Linked DNA regions of Homo sapiens: region 1 is linked to region 2. Evidence: fine-mapped expression QTL. A gene starts in region 2. The other region holds a variant in brackets. All regions are shown on one strand. Distances are between the middles of the regions. Region 1 overlaps PGA5 (pepsinogen A5). Region 2 holds the start of DDB1 (damage specific DNA binding protein 1).

Region 1 (11,062 bases), 81 kb after region 2:
TTTCCCCATGCTGCACTGCTCATTCACCGCTTACCTGTGGGAAGGTGGGAAACGTGACCCCAAGCCCACAGGTGGTAAGTGAGCATCCACCTTTACCCCACTGCTGGGGAGAAAAGCTGGCACCAAATTGTGACTGGGCTGGGGAAGGGTCTCCTGTAAGCACTTGGCGGCCTTTTATATTGGGAGACTTCTTTTTATTTTTTTCCCCAAGATCATGATTTTCTTTTCTGTTTTCTTTTTTCTTTTTTTCACTTTTATTTTAAGTTCAGGGGTACATGTGCAGGTTTATTATATAGTTAAACTCGTGTCACAGGGGTTTGTCATACAGATTATATTATTTCATCACCCAGGGATTAAGCTTAGTACCCATTAGTTATTTTTCCTAAGTCTCTCCCTCTACCCTCCCTCCACCCTTCCATAGACCCCAGTGTGTGCTTTTCGTGTCTATGTGTCCATGTGTTCTCATCATTTAGCTCCCACTTACAAATGAGAACATGCGGTATTTGGTTTTCTCTTCCTGCGTAACTTTGCTAAGGATGATGGCCTCCAGCTCCATTCATGTTCCTGCAAAGGACATTATCTCATTCTTTTTTATGGCTGCATAGTATGTACACCATGGAATACCATACAGACACTGGGGGGCTTCCACAGTGAGAAGGGAAAAGATGATGGAGAGGACTTGCTTCTGGGAAGGAACCTCTGAGACGAAATGACAGACCAGCAGTTTCTTTTTTGAGATGGAGTTTCGCTCTTGTTGCCCAGGCTAGAGTGCAATGGCAAGGTCTTGGCTCACTGCAACCTCTGCCTCCTGGGTTCAAGCGGCTCTCCTGCCTCAGCCTCCTGAGTATCTGGGATTACAGGTGCCCGCCACCACACCTGACTAATTTTTTGTATTTTTAGTAGAGTTGGGGTTTCACCATGTTGGCTAGGCTGGTCTCGAACTCCTGACCTCAGGTGATCTGCCCACCTTGGGCTCCCAGAGTGCTGGGATGACAGGCCTGAGCCACCGCGCCGGGCCGGGCCAGCAGTTTCTTAAGACGTGTTTTCAGCAGGAACACCTGTGGGCAGCGGGGAAGGAGCAGGGAGGGAGAGTTGGGGCTGCTGGGCCTTCTCGAAGCCTCAGCCAGCCCCCTCTGGGAGCTCTGGGGTTAGGCTGGCCCTTCGGAGCTGTCCTGAGCTGGAGCTACGGGGCAGGGCTTTCTGCCTCATATTGACCAGAGAGCTGCTATCAACCACCTTCCCAGCAGCTGGGAGACTGATCCTTCAGTCCTAGTGGGGGGATCTGGGCAGTGTAGCACAGTGTGCATGAGAGACGGAAAGAGGACAGTGCCGTCATGAATGGGGGGATGCGGATTTGTGATAAGGGAAGTGATGTGGGGCTGGAAAGCAGAAGCTGCTCTGTCACCAAGTCACCACTTGCTACCATTTTTTTTTTTTTGAGACAGGATGTTGCCCTGTCATCCAGGCTGGAGTGTAGTGGCATGATCACGGCTCATTGCAGCCTCAACCTCATGGGCTCAAGCCTTCCTCCCACCCCAGCTTCCCGGGTGGGTGGGATTAGAGGCACATGCCACCACGCCTGTCTAACTTTTAAAAAAATTTTGTAGAAATAGGGTCTCGCTGTGTTGCCCAGACTGGTCTTGAACTCCTAGGCTCAAGCGATCCTCCCACTTCAGCCTCCCTGAGTACTGGGATTACGGGCCTGCAGCCCCACACTTGCTACCACTGAAACCCATGGAGGCTGCGGAGTGAAAGCACCCCCGGGCATGGCCCATCGCTTTGCCGAGGCCGCCCTCTTCTGAGCCCTTCTCTGACCTGCTACTCACTCTGTGTCCCAGGGCGAAGGGTCTGCTGAAGTGTTTCCTGGCTGCAAAGGCAACCTGGTATCCAGTCCAGACGACAGTGTAGTCCTGGCCTCTAACCTGCGGCTGGTGGCAGGAATAATAAATGTGGGAGATAGGAGCATGGAAACCAAACAGTTTAGAGAGGCAAAGGACTTAGAGGCCGTTTTGTCCAGTAAGATACAAAGGGTCATGGTCATGAGCGGGGTCTGCAGCCAATGAATCTCAAGTTGGAGCCTTGCTCAGCTGGACTAGCTGTGGGATATTAGGTCTCTGCTCCCTTATTATTATTATTTTTTGAGACAGAGTCTTGCTTTGTCACCCAGCCTGGAGTGCAGTGACATGATCTCGGCTCACTGCAACCTCCACCTCCCAGGTTCAAGCGATTCTCCTGCCTCAGCCTCCCGAGTAGCTGGGATTACAGGCACACGCCACCATGCCCAGCTAGTTTTTGTATTTTTTGTAGAGATGGGGTTTCGCCACGTTGGCCAGGCTGGTCTCAAACTGACCTCAGGTGATCTGCCTGCCTCGGCCTCCCAAAGTGCTGGGATTACAAGCATGAACCACCGCGCCAGGCCTCTGCTCCCTTATTTGGACAATGGGGATAATAACAGGCCTACTTTATGGAGTTGTGACAATGACGTGTGATAATGCCTCCATAAGTCTCAGTGGTTTGCACTTGTGGCCCTGTGGCCCCTAAACTTGCTACAGCCCACCCGGCTTGGTGATGCCACGTGGGGTCTGATTTCAGGATAAAAGCGTAGAATTCTCATTGCCCCCATGCTGCAACTTTTCAAACAAGTCCATCTGTCAAAATGGTAGTGGCTAAAAATTAGTGCCAATTTCCTCATTGCTGTTCCTTTATGCAATAAGTTAGCATGCAATTTAAGTTTAATACTAGTCCCCCCCACCTGCCTCTGCAAATAGGACTCATGTCAATGATGTTCATTTTGAATGTTTAAAAAAAAGGAGTCCGGGTGTGGTGGCTCATGCCTGTAATCCCAGCATTTTGGAAAGCTGAGGTGGGCGGATCACGAGGTCAGGAATTCAAGACCAGCATGACCAATATGGTGAAACCCCATCTTTACTAAAAATACAAAAATTAGCCAAGCGTGATGGTATGTGCCGATAGTCCCAGCTACTCAGGAGGCTGAGGCAGGAGAATCGCTTGAACCTGGGAAGCAGAGGTTGCAGTGAACCAAGATCGCACCACTGCACTCAGAGCCTGGGTGACAGAGCGAGACTCCATCTCAAAAAAAAAAAAAGATTGGTTGGGGGTGGGGCAGGGGGACAGCTGTAAACACTTTTCCCAAGTTTTTCCGAGTATAAAAACATGTTTAACTGGACTGTTCCCCACCCAATATTACAGCTGAGAAGCAGAGGCTCAGAGAAGTTAGGAGAGTGTTCTAAGGCTGCACAGATTATGACGGCTGAATGGGAAGACAGCCTCATTCGTCTGACTCCCAGTCCAGGTGTTTTTCCTTCGCTTCACATTTCACCTGATGAGGTTCTCCTGTTGGTGTTTGGAGAGACAGCTGATGGCCCACAGTTTAGGAGGGGCCCTGTGAACACTATTTTAGTTTGGGTTCCCCCTAAAGCAGACCCAGAGATAGTATTCGGGTGAGAGCCAAGAGAAAAAGACCAATCAAGGGGCATTGATGAGCCGGTTGCAGCTATGGGCAATTGGCACTTTGTCCTAGGGACCTTCTGGAAGACTGTGGAGCCCATGCCTTGCCTGAGGATTGTCCCCCAAGGGTGTGAAGATGCACCAGTAGTTGTCCCTCAACTTTCGTCCCTCACTGGTCGAGCCTTGTCCTGGGCTTTTGGCTCTCTAGCACACCCTGCTGGCCTTGCCATAGTACTGAGCCTGCCTTTCTGCTTGTCCCCAGGCACCAGAAGGCTCTTGGGGCAGAGGTGCAGGAGCCATGGGTGGAGGGCTGGGTCAGGGCTCTCACTGGGCCATGTAAGCACATGTTCTGTGCACGGTAAACCGCAGTGCACCAGGAGGCAGGAGTCCACCTGAAGCCCCCAGCGGGGCGCGCAGTGCCTTTAATGGGATAAGCTGCTCTGAATTCTCGGGAGCCTGTGCTCCAACAAGCAAGGGAGTGTTTGTTCTTGGATGGAGACACCTTGCATTTTTCCTGAGCTAGGATTCCACTTTTAGGGTTCTGAGAAACAGAACAGAATGGGGGTGTGTCGGAAGCTTATTCTGTGGCCTCAGTTTCCCTTGCACCTGGCAGCTTCTCAAAGGGCAGAATGATCAGACCTGTTTCAAGAGACCTGATTTTAAAGGTTATTAGATGCATGGCCTGAAGGCAAGTCACGGTAGGTTTCTAAGTAGGACAAACTTACAGAGGCTCAAAATCGCTGTAATTCACTTTTTTTTTTTTTTAACTTACCCTCTTTTTAAGATCTTTCCGAGGCTGGGAGTGGTGGCTCACATCTGTAATCTCAGCACTTTGGGAGGCCGAGGTGGGTGGATCATGAGGTCAGGAGTTCCAGACCAGCCTGGCCAACATGGTGAAATCCCGTCTCTACTAAAAATACAAAAATTAGCTGGTGTGGTGGCAGGTGCCTGTAATCCCAGCTATTCAGGAGGCTGAGGCGGGAGAATTGCTTGAACCCGGGAGGCCGAAATTGCAGTGAGCTGAGATCATGCCACTGCACTCCAGCCTGGGAGACAGAGCAAGACTCCGTCTTAAAAAAAAAAAGGTCTTTCCATCTTAGCACCCAGTGAGCACATTTGCTTCTTCCTTTTACAGCTGTATATTGTGTGGATGCACCATAAGTTGTTGAACCAACTCCTGTGGATGCACTTTTGGGTCATTTCAAATCTTGCTTTTCCACATGATGCTACAAAAAATCATGTCCTTACATCGCTTTGCACATCTACTAGTGTATCTTTAAGGTAAATTTTCAGAAGGGAAGTTACTGAGCCATATGCTTTTTTTTCTTTCAGACGGAGTTTCACTCTTGTTGCCCAGGCTGGAGGGCAGTGGTGTGATCTTGGCTCACTGCAACCTCCACCTTCCAGGTTCAAGCA[A/G]TTCTCCTGCCTCAGCCTCCCAAGTAGCTGGGATTACAGACATGGGTCACCACACCCGGCCAATTTTGTATTTTTAGTAGAGATGGGGTTTCACCATGTTGGCCTGGCTGGTCTCAAACTCCTAACCTCAGCTGATCTGCCTGCCTTGGCCTCCCAAAGTGCTGGGATTGCAGGCATAAGCCACCACACACGGCTGGGAAGTGACATTTAAGCCACGTCTGCAGATGCTAGGTGTTAGCTAGTCAAGAAAGAGGGAAAAGCAACCCAGGCAAAGGGAACAGCATGTGCAAAGTCTGGAGGTGGGAAGAACACATGGGCTTTTGTGGCCGTGGGAGGCCAGGGTGGACGGAGCTCAGGGTAACGGGATCAGAGTGAAGCAGGGAAGGTTTGGAGGGAAAGGAGCACACAGGACCTGGAACTATGCCAAAGATTTGCTGTTTTATTCCAACGGCAATGGCAAGAAGGCATTAAGAGTTTAAAGCAAGGAAGGGATGAGATGAAATTTATGTTTCCTAAAGTTTATTCAGCTATGGAAAATGGGCTTGGGAGGGTGAGAGTGACCCTGGGGAGACTGGGTGTTGGAGCTCACCCCCGCCCTTCCTAGAGCCCAGCTCCAGCCTCTGGGTTTGTGTCTTCAGCAGACAGCCTAGGTCGGCTGTCACCAGAAGCAGGAGCTATGGGAATTTTCCCAGCATGCATGCCGGGGAGCCCAGGGCTGTAATAGACTTACTAGCAAGAGAGAGTCTGAGATGAAGCTCAGCTGAGTAAAAAAGAAACAGATCACTTTGCAGCAGGACTTGTCAGAGCTTTTGATTGGGAACTGTAGCTGGTGAACCCTGGGGAAGGGCCTAGAATGTAGCATGTTCTATACTTATTCTGAAACTGTGTTTTCCATTGAACATTTTGCTACCAAGCCCAGTCTGAGAAACTGCTCCATTTCCTCTTTGCCTTTCTAGGGCATATATGCTAATGAACATGCTTAATTCTCTGTCTCACAACCTCTGCTCAGGGAAGTGGAAGACCTTTCTCTTTGGTTACAGATGGGGAAACAGATGGATTCAGTGTCTTATGCCTGGGACTTGGGGGAGATTAACTGTTAGTCTTGGTAGCCAGCGAATCACAAGGGCATCCTATAAGATTGTGGGGTGTCAGCTTCTTCCACTTCTCTTGTCCATGTCTTGCAGACAACACTGCCCTGTCCTATCTACTTAGGGACATCACCATTAGTGTCCGCCTTTCCTGACTCTCCTGATTGCTTTCCTTTCCTCATGAGCTCTTTTTTTTTTTTTTTTTTTGAGATGGAGTCTCGCTCTGTCGCCCAGGCTGGAGTGCAATGGTGCGATCTCAGCTCACTGCAACCTCTGCCTTCCAGATTCAAGCGCTTCTCCTGCCTCAGCCTCCCGAGTAGCTGGGATTACAGGCACACACCACCATGTCCAGCTAATTTTTACATTTTTAGTGGAGACAGGGTTTCACTGTGTTGGCCAGGCTTGTCTCAAACTCCTGACCTCAGGTGACCTGTCCGCCTCAGCCTCCCAAAGTGCTGGGATTACAGGTGTGAGCCACTGTGCCCAGCCTTCTCATGATCTCTTATTGGCTTTGGGAGAAAGAAGAAGTTGACTCCCTCAACTAAGAGCTTCAGTGCCCTATTTTTTTTTTCTTTGAGCTGGAGTCTCTCTGTGTCGCCCAGGATAGAGTACAATGGCAGGATCTCAGCTCTGTGTCCCTTCTATGAGAAGACAATTAGCTCAGTATTTTGGCCCCCAGGTCTTTTTATGATGCTTCCAGCACAACCCCCTGAAGCCTCTCTGTCTTCCTGGCTCCATCATGAAGTGTCAGCTGCTGGGGTCACTATGTTGGGTGCCATCCAAGTGGATGTGGTCATTTTCATCCCTGCCCTGGCGTTCTAACCCCAGTAATGTGAAGGAAAAAGACCAGCAAAGAGAAGCAGCTCCACAAAACCTGTTTCAGTGGGTTATGTTTTTATTCTACGTTATTGGTAGGACAGGGAACAGGGCCAAGACCTTCACACTCCCCTGGGAAGAACAGTCAGGAGAATTAGATACATCTAAAGTGGGCATAGGACGGAGGCCAGATCTTCCTGGGAGGTGGCTGAAGAGACTTAGGCTTAAGCCACAGGGGCCAGGCCGACCTGGTTGTTTGCCCTGTCGAAGACGGTAAAGTACTGGCGGATGAAGACATCACCCAGGATCCAAAGCTCTCCAGATTCGGTGGGGACGTTCATGCCCTGGAAGCCACTGATGCAGCTCCCCTCGCTCTGGAGAAAAGGAGAATAAAAGTGGAGCTGGGACACCGATTCAGCCGTGATAGGCGCTGGGTGATAAACATCCAGGGAGCCCTGGTCCAGCTGTAAGGCACGTGCAAGGAGGAGCTTCCTGGCTCAGTGTCCAGGGATTCGGCTGTTCTTGGCCTGGAGTCAGCCTGTAGAAGCCATCCAATGCACGACTGGTTTCTACGCATTACTGGACATTATCTGGTGTTTCTGGCAGGCACACGAACCCTGACATCAGCATCGGTGCTAAGGGGCTTAGGTAGAATTCAGCTGCTAGGAAGGAGTTTAAAAACCCTGCCACTACATCCTTTTCTCATTATTATTCTTATCTCATCAGGGACAAACCAGATGAGCTATTAGCCCTCTTGCCTCACTAAGTCACTGGGCTGCGACCTTGTCTGCACATCACCTGGGGAGCTTTGAACCCCCGCAGCCCCATCCCATTGCTCAGGCCTTGCCCTCTCCTAATGTAATCAGAATCAGTGGGGGAGCCCAGGCATCAGTGCTTCTTGTTGAATAACTTGAGTCCACTGGCAAAATTAGTTTTCCACCTGACGTTATAATAACAGAAGGGAAAGAGTTTTCTTGTGGCTCGTATAGCTAAAGATTTGCTACTTGGTAGAGATGGTAGAAGTGTTGGAAGCCCCAGCCTATGGAAATTAGGATTTCCATTTGCCCAACCCTTGGTAGCTCTGATGTGATCAGTCTCACTTGGTTGACCTAACCGCACTCTGAGGGTGGGGAAAGCTGCCATCTCTACCTTTTGGATGCGAAAACTGAGGGTGAGATGAGCTGTAGCTTGTTCAGAATCAATGGGCTAGTAATTCAGACCCAGGACTTGGACGCAGGGGTCCAAATAGAATCCTCTTTTCACTCCATTAACCTTTGCTTCACTTGTTCCCTTAGGGGGCTGTATCCGAGTTCTTATTCCTGCATTTGTTTTTAATATATTCTTTTTCTCTGGAGGCTGTCTAGGGCAGATGTTCGTCTGCCTCTGCCTGCTGGCTTCAGCTCGTGGAAGTGTACTTTCCCTCTGCAGAAGGGGACTCTGTGTCCACATTCTGTGTGAACCTCTCTAGTGGATGGTCCAGAGCCTCCTCACCTGCAGGATGTAGGCACTGGGTGGCACGGGGTACTGGACTCCATTGATGGTGAAGACGATGTCGGGCAGGCTGCTGATGGCTGAGCAGCTGACCACCATCTGGAAAGAGTGAGGGTGAGAAAAGTTAGAAGGGTTTTCGTCGCTTCTGCCTGGCACACCCACTACTTGAGTGTAGAACAGGGCAGTCGGGGCTGGACTCACGTCGCCATCTGAGTTCTCGCTGGCTCCGATGTCGCTCTGGATGTTGGCAATGGGGCTGGTTGGGCCGGTCAGCAGAGAGGTGCCGGTGTCAACAATGGCCTGGCAGCCCTCAGCACAGGCGATGGTCTCTCCGTTCATGGTGATGCTGAGGGTAAGAAGCAAGTTAAGCTCCCTGAGCCCTCAGGGGTTCATCTCTCCAAGGAGGAACCAGGAGGTGAGCCCAGACATTCCTTCCCCACCCATCCATTGGCCAATGCGTGAAATTTCTGTTCCTCTCGTTCACGCACTCATTCATCCCGCATTCATTTACCCTACAAATATTTCCCAAGTGCCTACCCTCTGCCAGGCATGGGAAACGCCAAGCGAAACAAGACAGCCTCACAGTTCCAGGCTGCAGGGAGCTCCCGGCCTAGCTGGCAAGATAAGTTATGTTGGCAGAAGGGCAAGATGATCAGTCAGGCATGAGGCAGGGAACAAAAACAGGGCCCAGGGTGAGAGGTGGTGGAGGGGAGCAGCCAGGGGAACAGACACCCAGGAATGCCAGGCAGGTGAAGAGAGAAGGAGGACATCATCAGGGGATGGTATGCGGGGAGGTACAGAGACCAGAGGGCTGGGGCAGGTGTTGGAGGAACTGGTGAAATTCTAGCATGGCTGGGCAGACATGAGGTGATCCATGTGTCCTGGTTTGCCTGGGCTGGTCCCAGTTTTAGTACTGAAAGTCTCTGTCCTGGGAAATTGTTCATTCTTGGGAAAACCCACACCACTGAGCACGCTAGCAGGCTAGCTGGGGAAGAACAGCGTAGAAATGAAGCTGCCAGGGAGACAGGGGAGGCCCCGAAGGGGAGGGTGGAATGAAGTGACTTCACACAATTTCTTAGCCATTTTGCCCCACTTCTAGACGGAAAGTGACATGTTTCCTCGAGTGGCAGGAGCGTGTGCTTGTTCACAGCCCCCTTAAATTGTGAGATGCGTGGACAGGTGGGTCCCCCAGCTCTCCCCAGGGATGCTGGTGGATGGTCCTGCCTCCGTGACTAGGAGGACAGTGGCCATCTCACCCTTGCAGAGTCTCAGCTTCCCAGACAGCTCTTCCCTCCTCCTGCAGGGAGGTGTCTTTCTAGGGGTCTCTTTGGCTTGGCCAACTTCCACCTTCCCCCTGGAGTGTGTTCCCCTGTGCCAGCTGTTCCTGGGGGGATTCTGGAAAGCTGATTGGCTATGAATCCATAAGGAAATGGGATCTGGGGCCCAGGCCTGGATGCTGCCCGTTCATGGCAGTCTCACCTGTCCACGGTGATCTGCCAGTAACCCTCGACGGTAACAGGCACCCAGTTCAGACTTCCAGTGTAGTAAGAAGAGTCAATGCCACCAAAGATCACCACGCTGCCACTCTTGTCATCGCTGTGGAAAGTGAGGGGAGAAGACATGAATTTTTTTGTTCGTCCATTTGTGTGACCATCTGCTGTTGCCTCCTCAGAGCGACCGTTGATTGGGCACTTTCCAGGGCTGTCCTGGGGTGTGACCAATGTGGTTTCTTTTCCTCTTAGGCCAGGGCCCATGCAGTGGGCACCGTCACTGTTGTTTCCACTTACCATGAGGACACTGAGCCTGAGGGAGGTGAGGCCACCTGCCCAAGGTCACACAGCGGGGGAGTGGTGGAACTACGTTTGGAAGAACACAGGCCTTATAGTTTGAATGTGTGGTTTCCACCGTGGTACCCACTCTGGTTGCCATGGGGACCCCAGGGAAGTGAATGCATGACAGTGTCCGCTCTTAAGGACTTGAGGGTGGAGGTCACTGGTTCTTAGCTGGGAGCAGTTTTGCCCCCAGGGGCATGTCTGGAGACATTTTGGATTGTCATGATTGGGTGGGGGTAGGGGATGCTGCCGGCATCTCATGGGTAGAGGCTGGGGATGCTGCCAAACATCCTACAATGCACGGGACAGTCCTTGGCGGCAAGGAATTATGGTGGTCTGAAATGTTAACAGTGCCCAGATTGAGAAACTCGGATCTGGCTGGGGAGATACAATGGCCCCACATGAAATATTTAAGTGCTCATAAAGGCAGATGATGTTTCAGAGCCACCTTGAACATTAACTGGCCAAGAAGAATACATGACAAAGAGCCTTCCTGTTGTAAATTGCAGGAGTCCTTGTTATTGCAATATTCATTTTCTAAATCTCTGCAGTTTCAGGTTAGATGTGGAAGGAAATGTAGACGGCAATAAGAAATTAATTATCCGGGGCTGGGCGTGGTGGCTCATGCCTGTAATCCCAGCACTTTGTGAGGCCAAGGCAGGTGGATCACGAGGTCAGGAGATGGAGACCATCCTGGCTAACAGGGTGAAACCCCATCTCTACTAAAAATACAAAAAATTAGCTGGGCATGGTGGCCCATGCCTGTAGTCCCAGCTACTCGGGATGCTGAGGTAGACAATGGCATGAACCCAGGAGGCAGAGCTTGCAGTGAGGCGAGATAGCGCCACTGCACTCCAGCCTGGGCGACAGAGCGAGACCCCATCACAAAAAAAAAAAAAAAGAAATTAATCATCCGAGAACTGGCCATTTCTAAAACATGACCCCACTCAC
Region 2 (10,485 bases):
GGGTGCTGCCAGGCAAGGGAAGGCTGGAAAGGGCTGGCCAGTCTCCACGTCCCCGGTGGAAGCCCACCTTGTGTATAAGCACCGTGCCGCACAGCCCCCGCCGGCCTGCCTTCTTCAGGACAGTGAAGGCGCTGTCGTCCCCAATCACCACCATCTCCACCGGGATGCCTTCAGCCCGGGCCTGCTCCCGGGCCAGGCCGAAGTTGAGCCGATCCCCAGTGTAGTTCTTCACGATAAGGAGCGTCCCCACTGCGGGAGCAGCCGGAAGGGCTCAGTGTGCTTACTGTGCCCTCCCTGCCGCAGCCCCTCCTGCATGCCAGGCTTACCTGTGCCGGCCTGGGCCACGGCCCTGATGGCTGCCAGGATGCTGCCCACTGCCGGGGAGGTGAACACAGCTCCCGCGATGACCCCAGTCAGCATCCCCTTCCCTATGAAACCTGGAGGTGGAAGGAGTGGAGTGAGCATGCTGGGTGGGACTCGCGCCTGTAGTCACTGGGGCTTCCCACACTCCGGGGGTCATGGTTTGGTGAGCCCTACTGTGTGCTTGGTGCTCAAAGATCCCCCAGGTCTTCACATGGCTGACTCCTTCTTAGGAGGCATCTTAGAGAGGCCTTCTGTGACCTCCCAGCCTGAAGCAGTCACCAGCTCCCTCCCCAGGGACTCACTGTTCCTTTGCCCCATTTTACTGTCTTTACTAAGTCACTTAGCACCCTCTGAAATGATCTCATTTACTTTCGTGTTTACTTGGTTATTGTCTGTCTCCCCTAAGTAGAATATAAGCTCCACGAGGGCAGGGACCTTGCCTGTCTGGTATCCCTAGTGCCCAGTACAGCGCCAGGTACACAGTGGGCTCATGAGTGTTTGCCAAATGAATGGATTTTGCTGAAGGAAGACAGGAAGCAGAGAAATGACGCGCATCCTAGTCCCTGCCCTCCAGCAGCCCTCAAGGAGAGTCTGCGTCCCTGGCTCCACACAGGAAAGAAGCCAGGACAGTCCACAAGTGGGACACAGCAGGTGGGAATTCAGAAGAGGGGTGCTGCTGTAGGCTGGAAGAGTCAGGAAGCCTTCATGGAATCGGGGTGGGTCTGCTGGGCTTGGAGGGTCCAGAAGATTCATGGAATCACCGACTCTCAGAGCTAGAAGGACTTGAGAGATTGTTTGGCCCAACTTCGTAGATTTGTAGATGTAGAAACAGATTCAGAGAGGCCGTGATGGGCCCCTGATCCCAGCCGGAGGGAGTGGGAGAGTGGGAAGTACCCCAGTTCCTGATTCTGGGCTGAGCTCCATCCTGCACTTCATGGCAGCACTAAGGATCCCCCAGGAGGCCCTGTCCACTCCACTAGTACCCCCTGCCCCACCCCAGGATACTCACCAGCATGGGCAGGCTCATGGCCAGAGCCCCCACCCGACAGCAGTGCCACCCGGCCCTTGAGGCTGTCCAGGTCAGAACGGAGGGCCACGCGGTGGCCCTGCAGGAGCTGCAGGTTGGGGTTGCAGGCCACCAGGCCAGCAAGAGCGTCATCAGCACAGCCAGCCACCGAGTTCACCAGCTTCTTGGAGGTCTGCAAGGGAGGAGTGAGAAGGAGGTCAGAATGTGGTCAGTACAGATACCCCCATCCTGCGCAGCCACACTGCTGTGGTGTAGACCCCTCTCCCGCATCCACCTAGGAACTCCAGGAGCACAGGACTTCCTTGAGTTGGGCGACATCTTAGGTGGGTATTTCTGTGAGTTTTCAGTAATGTGTGACTTTCTATTCAGTACCTAATTTATGAAGTGTCTTGCACCATACCTTCAATTTATTCTGAAAAAATGGCTGCAATACAAAGAAAATGGGGGAGTGGTTGCCTGCAGTGTAAAATATTTTAATAAAACTGGGGCCCAACACCTTCTTCTGTCAAAAGGAAGAAAAGCCTCAGGCTGAGGCTCCTATGCTGGGGGAGGAGCTGAGCAGGTTCCACAGCCACCGCTGCTCCCTGGTGCTCCAACGCGGGGCAAACATTTCCCCAGCCTCTTGGTATGCCAGGCCCAGCACTAGACACTATGTGTAGAGATAACAGCTCAGGTGCAGTGGCTCATGCCTGTAATCCCAGCACTTTGGGAGGCTGAGGCAGGCAGATCGCCTGAGTCCAAGACTTTGAGACCGGCCTGGGCAACATGATGAGACTCCATCTCTACAAAAAATATGAAAAATGATCCAGGCATGGTGGTGCATGCCTGGAGTCCCACTAGTCGGAAGGCTGAGGTGGGAGGATCACTTGAACCTGGGAGGTCATGGCTGCAGTAAGCTGTCATCGTGCCACTGCACTCCAGCCTAGGTGACAGAGTGAGACTCCATCTCGGAAATAAAAAAAGAGATAACAATGCTGTTCCTGCCCTCAGTGGAAACACAGCAGAGGTCACAGCCATGTGTAGTGGGCACTGCTACACGAGGAGCGCACGTGCACCATGGGAGCATAGAGGAGGGGCCGCAGCCTCCCGAGGGGCCTGGAGGTCTCTGGGAAGGATAAGCAGGACCGGGGTAGGGAAAAAGGGGGCAGGAGACATGGGAGGAGGGAAAAGGGAGGCTCTTCCAGCCAGAGGGGGAGCATAAGCCAAGGCCTGGATGAGTGAATAGTGTGGTGGTGCCAGGAAGCACGGGTGACCAGCAGGAAGGGGTGGGGAGGAGAGGACTGGCCACAGGCAGCCTCAGGAGGGGTTGTGGACAGGCTGGTGGAGGGTTACAGAGCAGTGCCGCCAGGCTTGGCTGAGTGGATACAGGGTGCAGACAGAAGTGAGTAGCGTGGGGGCCAGAATGGAGTGTGGCTTGAGCTCTGCTGTTACAGGGACTTGGGTTCAAATCCCACTTCTGCCTCTCATTAGCTGCAGGAACTCAGGGAAGATACATCATTGTCGGGAGCTAAAATTCTTCCTCTGTAAAATAGGGATTTACTAGAACAGAGTATATGCCCATGATATAGTGGAAACTCAATCAAATGAAGCTACTCCCTTTTTCAAACAGGCTGTGAAAAGCCAGAGTCTGCTGAACAAGGGCTGCAGCCCCTGGCTTTGTCCTGAAGACAGAGTGAGACTGGGGCCCAACGTGGACTCAGAGGGCTGGGCTCCCACCGCCACCTGGTGGCCCGGTGGGAACCTGCAGCTGAGCCAGGTCCTGGCAAGGTGAACTTCCGGCTGTGGCTTCTTCCTGAGCTTGCTAGCACCAGCTCCTTTGTACAAAATTTGGCTCTGCTGCCTCCCTGCCAACCTGTCCTGCATCCAGCCAGGGCCAGGGCTAAGCCACCTGCTTCAGAGTAGCCTAGGTCTGTAGGGAGCAAGAAGAACAATAAGATTGGTTCCATTTGCTGAGCAGTGACTAAGAGCCAGGCCCAGTTCTAAGTGTTTTTGAGCATGTCTCATTTAATCTTCCCAACAGGCCGGGTGTGGTAGCTCATGCCTATAATCCCAGAACTTTGGGAGGCCAAGGCGGGTGGATCACCTGAGGTTGGGAGTTCGAGACTAGCCTGATCAACATGGAGAAACCCCATTTCTACTAAAAATACAAAATTAGCTGGGCGTGGTGGCACATGCCTGTAATTCCAGCTACTCGGGAGGCTGAGGCAGGAGAATTGCTTGAACCTGGGAGGCGGAGGTTGTGGTGAGCCGAGATTGCGCCATTGCACTCCAGCCTGGGCAAAAAGAGCAAAACTCCGTCTCAAAAAAAAAAACCCAAACTAAAACAAAACAAAACTTCCCAACAGCCCTATGGAGGAAAGATGAGCCCAGTGAGGAAACTGAGGCACAGTTAAACTATTTTGCCCAAGGTCACACAGCCAGCAGGTGTCCAGGTCTGCCTGGCTCCAAAGCTGGTTCCCTTTTGGCCATATCATGCTGCTTTCTCGAGGGGCTGGAGGGAAGTGGAGGGTGACAGAGGTTGCCCTAGAAAGGACATGGGTTTGTGGCTCTCAGAGCCTACCAGGGACTGGAACACACAATGAAGTTGTGAGTTGGCCTCACTCCAAGCCCAGCCTCCAGCAGCACTACCCTCCAAGAAAGTGGCCTGCTCCCCATCATGATAATCTGTCTTTTACAGAGCCAGAAGAGGGTTTAGGGACCAGTGCTATCCCTGGTTTCAGTGGCCTGAAAGGATGGAAAAGGAAAGGAAGTCAAGTGAGGCCTCCAGGACTCTGCTTGATCAACACCACACAACCACTGGAGGTAGGCCTTAATTTGCCTTATAATGCAGATGAAGAAAAAGAGGCGCAGAGAGGTCTGTAAAAGGTCATGCAGCTGGTCAGTGGCAGGCTGAAATTTGAATCCAGATATGTTCAAGGCTTGTTTTGGTTCAAATCAGTGGGCCTGGAGCAAAGCCCAGGGACATGGCCAGCCTCCCACACTGTAGATCCCAGCTCCAGACCGGCCCACATAAGCCCCAAGGTTAGGAACGGTCACATGGTCATTCTTCACGATTCCTTCTGTGACCGGTACAATGTCTATTACAGAGCAGGTAACTGTTACTGTTTTACTCTGAATGCAAGACCCAGATAAGGGGCAGAGTGGCTCTGAAGGGACTCAAGAGGCTGCAGCCCCAGGCCTGGCTGGGACCAGCAGCCTCCAGGAAACAAAGAAAAGCAGGGATCAGACCCTGGGAGAGAGGATGACCCTCTCTCTTCACCCGTGAGCCTCAGGAGGCAATAGCATCTCTCAGTCAAAGTGTAAGGAGCTTTAGCTTGCCCAAGGCTGGGATCCTGCTTTGAGACCATGCTGCCATTCCCGTCCCGGCCCTGTATGACTCACCATGGTGTGGAGGCTCTGAAACAGGCTGAGTTCACACCGTTGCACTGAGCTGCTGGAGGATGGACAATCCTGTGCTACCTGGGTCTGAGTACAGTGGAGGCAGCAGCAGCACCTGCAGGAGTGGGTAACGATACAAGCTGCGGAAGGAACTCGCAGTCGACTGGCACAATCACGCCTTCAGCACCCTAGTAATTAGGGAGCTGCCCCAGACTTCGGTCCAAGTCCAAACTCTAGTACATGGGCTACGGATGGAGAAGAGTGTGGGGCTGACCAAGGTTCATGCCTGCACTTCACTGCCAGAAGACAGATCAATCCATGTCAAGCACAGGTCTGCCTTTATGTCCAGGAACAGCACCCACTTCATCACTAAAGGACAGTGATCCTCAGAATAACTATCTTTTACACGGGCATCACATGCAGCGAAAAAGTTAACAAAGCTCGTCACACGCTTGCCCTCACTGGCCTTGGCACCAAAAGGGAAGGGAATGGGGGGAGCTAGCCAGGTTTGTGACCCATTTTACTTCTGGGAAACAGACTCAGAGAGCTCTAGGGACTTGTCCAAGGTAATACAGGTAACAGCCAGAATCTAAACCAATGTCTAGTTTTTCTACAGAGTGTGTTTTTACTACTGATAATTCAGTGCCTCCAAAGTCAGGCAGAGTCTCTGCTATGGGAAAGGCAAGATGTAAACCACGATGACTTTCTAGCTTTTCCTCAGTTCAGCCTGGTTCAGCAGCGTGTTGGCCTCTGTGTGGGTGCACAATAGGAAGAATCAACATAGCTCTGCCTCAGCCTACTTGGGGTTGTGGGGAGGGTCTTAGGTAAACCAATTCCTCCCTAAGCCTCAGCTTCCTCATCTGTAAAATGGGGGTTGGCTCCTCTCTGGCATTCTGCGAGTGTGCCAAGCCACGTGGTATTCCTCTTGTTCCCGGGGAGCCTGTTTGATGTGGGGTACCCTGGAGGCTGCAGGGCTGACGGCTCTCCTGGCTCATTAAGGTTCCCTACGGAGAAATACTGGTTTTGTGTTTGAGGTTCGAATTTGTAGAGCAATAGGGGCACTAATAACGTTGGGCAAGCAGACCGGTGGGCCCTTTGAAGTCTGAAGAATCAACGCGCAAAAGGGAGGAGGTGAGCAGGTGGTCGTTCAAACGTCAGGCGAGGGCACCAGCTGGATCTGGAGGAACTGAGACAGTGAAAGGAAAGCAGGCAAGGTTCTAGTCTGGGATATGCACGAATCGCGGTCTCCCTTCCCTCTCTATGCCTCCGCAGTCCTTCCCGTTCCCAAAGGAGGAACAGCCCGAGGGCTCCTGGAGCAACGGAAGGAGGACTGGATGCGGGGAAGGGCAAAGGGCGCGGAACGGGGTGGGGAGTCTGCGGGCGAGCTCGGAGGACACTGGCGCACCTCCCCCGCCGGCTCACGGCCGCATCCGCCACATCCGAAGGCGCCGCGACTTCCCGGAGACCCCGAAGCGTGCGCTCTCATCCGGGTCCTGCGGGCGCTGGCGGAAAGAGGCGAGGCGGTGCCTCCGGGGGCGGGGCCTCCTTCGGTTGGCGGCCTCGGGCTTCGGGAGTCCTCCAAGAGGCCAGGTGAGGCCGTCCCGTGATGCCCCGCGCCCCGGCCGCTCTGGCCTGCAACGTGTCTCTGGGGCGGAGGCAGCGGCAGTGGAGTTCGCTGCGCGCTGTTGGGGGCCACCTGTCTTTTCGCTTGTGTCCCTCTTTCTAGTGTCGCGCTCGAGTCCCGACGGGCCGCTCCAAGCCTCGACATGTCGTACAACTACGTGGTAACGGCCCAGAAGCCCACCGCCGTGAACGGCTGCGTGACCGGTGAGGCTGCCGGGGCCGGAGACCCCGGCGAGTGAGGGAGTTGGGGGGAGCCGCGGCCTAGGGAGGCCCGCCGCCCCGGGGGCGGCCGGGCAGGAGTGGGCCCGGCGAATGGAAGGCGCTGGCGGCCGAGGAACCTCCCCCAGCACCGCGACCTCGAAAGAGTCGTCCCTGTACGCGCTTTTTGGGGGTTGGAAGCCGCTCTCGAGGGTCCCCTTTCGTCCTGGGGAGGTCATTCGGCCTCGAGAACAGGGCGGGCCCAGTGAGACAGAGGAGTGTGAGTTGGTTGTGCGGTGTCGTTTGGGCCCGGAGATTGGCTTTCTGTGGCCAGGAAAAGGGGAGGTGGTAATGACGACTTTGGGGTCAAGATTTTCCTGTGGGGAAGTCTGGGGGGCCCAGGAGGTGGAGGGATGTGAGGAATGCCCGCATTATCCCACAGAGGGAGAGGAGCCCTCTTCAGGCTAACCCCTTTGCCTGGGGCTGTTGTTTACATGAGGGCCCTGCTGGAGAAGAGGGTTTGGTTTGCCTGGCCCAGTGCTGGGTTTGCCTTGTTGACGATGCGCTTGGATTGTTAAGGACACCGATGTTCAGAACCCGGGAAGAGTCATCTTAACCCACATTCTCAGCTGAATATGCAGACCCCAAGCTTGCATGTTTATATACACCCTAATCATGATTCCAAAACAAAACTGTTGTTCAGAGTTGGAGGTAGCTGAGTGTGGATGGAGGTATTGGTAGACTGCCAGGAGGGCAGGGGGTGTGGACAAAACAGTGTTTTCATATAAAGCTCTGGGACTTCTTCATTTGACTTGGTCTGTCAGATAAAAGTTTTGTGAGACTTTAGATGAAGACTGGAAGAAGTGAACACTTTCTCCGGCATTCTCAATTAGAGCCTGCCACTGTAACTGTAATAGAGTAAAATTGGAGGGGCAAGAGGCATGAGAAGGGATTACGCAGTCATTGTCATTTGGAGGACACACGGCTCTTAGGTCCAGTCCAGTTTTCTTAGTCTGATTAGGGAAGTAGCTTTGTTGAATGCATGAACTGAGACTCTTTGAGGTGCCGGATTTGGCAAGAAGGGGAGTAGCTGGAGGGAGTTGGAGAAGTATGTGAAGTAAATGAGAATTCTGGAGGTATTTAGACATAAGTGATAGGATTATTTTGAAGGGATGGGAGGCCCTTCCCCTGAGTTCAAAAGTTAGAGGGTCTGTTCTTTCAGGACACTTTACTTCGGCCGAAGACTTAAACCTGTTGATTGCCAAAAACACGAGATTAGAGATCTATGTGGTCACCGCCGAGGGGCTTCGGCCCGTCAAAGAGGTGGGCATGTATGGGAAGATTGCGGTCATGGAGCTTTTCAGGCCCAAGGTAAGTGTTGCAGTTGGGACAAGCAGTGGAGGGGGAACTGTTGGTCGTAGGTTGTTTTATGTTATTTTTGTTTGTTTATTTATTTTCTTTGAGACGGGGGTCTCACAGTGTTGCCCAGGATGTCTTGAACTCCTGAGCTCAAGCAATCCCTCCACTTTAGCCTCTGGAGTAGAGTAGCTGGGGTATTGTAGGCATGCCACCGTGCTTGGGCTGTGTTAGGTTGTTTTGCGAATTCTTGGGATGGGTGGAATATGCTTTAGGAGAAAAACTCTTCTCTTTTTTCTCTCTTTGGATAGCAAATTTCAGTATGTACTCTTGACCAAGCTTTCTAGAAGTAAAAGGAGAGATTCATTAGGGAAACATTTATGAAGTTGACTTCTTTAGAAGGGAGAAATTAAAGCAGTTTGTTTCAGAGGATAGGCTACAGAGTGGGGCAGTCCTGGCTTCATTTCTTGTTAATTCTGACTTTAGGTGCCACTTAAGGCACCTTTCAGATCAAATCCCCTGGGTTGTTGTGACGATGAAATGATTCAGTAACATAGGGCCTATCATATAGCAAGCATTTACAGTTATGTTAACAATTACCAGGCCGGGCATGGTGGCTCACGCCTGTAACCCCAGCACTTTGGGAGGCCGAGGTGGGTGGATCACGTGAGGTCAGGAGTTCGAGACCAGCCTGGCCAACATGGTGAAACCCCATCTCTACTAAAAATACAAAAGTTAGCCGGGTGTGGTGGCACGTGCCTGTAATCCCAGCTACTTGGCAGGCTGAGGCACAAGAATTGCTTGAACTCAGGAGGCGGAGGTTGCAGTGAGTGGAGATGGCGCCCATTGCCCGGTGACAGAGCGAGACTCCATCTCCAAAAAAAAAAACACCAAACAAAAAAAACAATTACCATCAGTATTTTCATTATTTTAGCGCAAATGTTTTCATCCAAATCACCACCACATTGCTTTATGTTGTCTTAACTGAATCTGGCAAGAAAGCAGTGGGTTCAAAATTTTAATTATAACCCTTTGAACAAAACAGCAATTTTTTGGAGTCTGTGTTAAATAAGTAGGACTTTGTTGATCCATTTTAGCTTCCGTTGTTATTCCCACATTTTTTTTCCTCTTTCTTCAAATACTTGGGGAGGAGTGGAGGAGGCATTACATTCATCTTTCAGAATTTGAATGGGATGATTGAGATTAGCTTGAGATTGAAATAGATGAAGACTTTGTTTGTAGAACAGAGAGATGGAGAATCATGAAAGTGAGAACTAGATGTTTACCAGCTTCAGTTCTGGCTTTTTGTACATGCCCTTAGGGTGTATGTGTACCTAGTGTGGGTTACAAGCTCACCATGTATTTTCTCTTTAGGGAGAGAAGAATTTGGAAAATTCTTAAAGAATTTGGTGTGCTTAAAGACTGGACAGGTTGTTCCTGTTTTAAAAAGAACCTCTTTTGATAGCATAATATTGGTTTCCAGGGGGAGAGCAAGGACCTGCTGTTTATCTTGACAGCGAAGTACAATGCCTGCATCCTGGAGTATAAACAGAGTGGCGAGAGCATTGACATCATTACGCGAGCCCATGGCAATGTCCAGGTGAGGTGGCTGCTTTAGGCCAATGAAAGTTTTCTAAGTAGGGCTGTCATGATTCATGGAAAAAATTAAAGTGCTGGGGGCAGCTCTCTATTCGATCAGAGAAATAAGGAGAAGACACTATGGGTTTGAGCTTTTTGGAGAAAGGACTCCTGTAGTTCACTCAAGACCCAAGGGACAGGGTAATAATTCATTGAGATTCAGTGTTTCATGAAAAAGGCATGCACTGACATTGGGGCTCCAACTATTTGGCCTATCAAATAGATCCATTAGTTTTAATACCTCTCCTAAAATTTTTCTGCACAAGTGGTGCCCAGCGTCCTCTGTTGCTCTGTGGATGTTGAGGTTCTTCCCTAATCCCGATTTTGTTTCTCAGGACCGCATTGGCCGCCCCTCAGAGACCGGCATTATTGGCATCATTGACCCTGAGTGCCGGATGATTGGCCTGCGTCTCTATGATGGCCTTTTCAAGGTTATTCCACTAGATCGCGATAATAAAGAACTCAAGGCCTTCAACATCCGCCTGGAGGAGCTGCATGTCATTGATGTCAAGTTCCTATATGGTTGCCAAGCACCTACTATTTGCTTTGTCTACCAGGTACTGGATCAGGAAGAGAGAGCGAGAAACTGTGAGGTTGATGTGATAGGAGTTGTTTTTGCTAACTGGCATGTCTGGGTTTGGTAGGATAGAGAGAAGTGTTTAATGTGTTTGTCCTGAAATGTTTTGAACAACACAATTAATATGGGTCAGACTTTCGTTGCTTCTTGAGTGCAGTAGTACTTATTGTGGAGGCAGCAAGCTCTCTGGGGCTTGTAGCAGGTTTTAATCCTGAGATTACACTCTGGTTGTGGGCCTTGGGAGATTTCATAGGATGACCCAGTTTATACTTTGATTCTCTTACTGGAGTGCTAGGGGATTATTAAAACTTAGTTGTCAAGAAAT

Evidence for each region.
Region 1: its variant is fine-mapped to the expression of DDB1 in whole blood (TOPMed, PIP above 0.99).

What each region holds. Positions count from the first base shown.
Region 1 is chr11:61,247,232-61,258,293 of GRCh38, reverse strand. PGA5 (pepsinogen A5) reads right to left here. Exons shown (of 9, transcript NM_014224.5): 6 at 9,759-9,875; 7 at 8,481-8,625; 8 at 8,280-8,378; 9 at 6,850-7,162. The coding sequence ends at 7,013. It overlaps VWCE (von Willebrand factor C and EGF domains), which reads left to right. Exons shown (of 20, transcript NM_152718.2): 20 at 1-8. Among named protein-coding and RNA genes, the nearest start is that of PGA5, 12 kb to the right of the region's middle. The variant A/G (reference allele first, on the strand shown) is at 4,885.
Region 2 is chr11:61,329,018-61,339,502 of GRCh38, reverse strand. DDB1 (damage specific DNA binding protein 1) reads left to right here and starts at 6,398. Exons shown (of 27, transcript NM_001923.5): 1 at 6,398-6,595; 2 at 7,812-7,960; 3 at 9,429-9,545; 4 at 9,919-10,140. The coding sequence starts at 6,535. It overlaps TKFC (triokinase and FMN cyclase), which reads right to left and starts at 6,275. Exons shown (of 18, transcript NM_015533.4): 1 at 6,174-6,275; 2 at 4,772-4,883; 3 at 1,373-1,562; 4 at 327-437; 5 at 68-249. The coding sequence starts at 4,774. RefSeq lists enhancers at 5,791-6,313, 6,314-6,836 and a silencer at 6,136-6,395.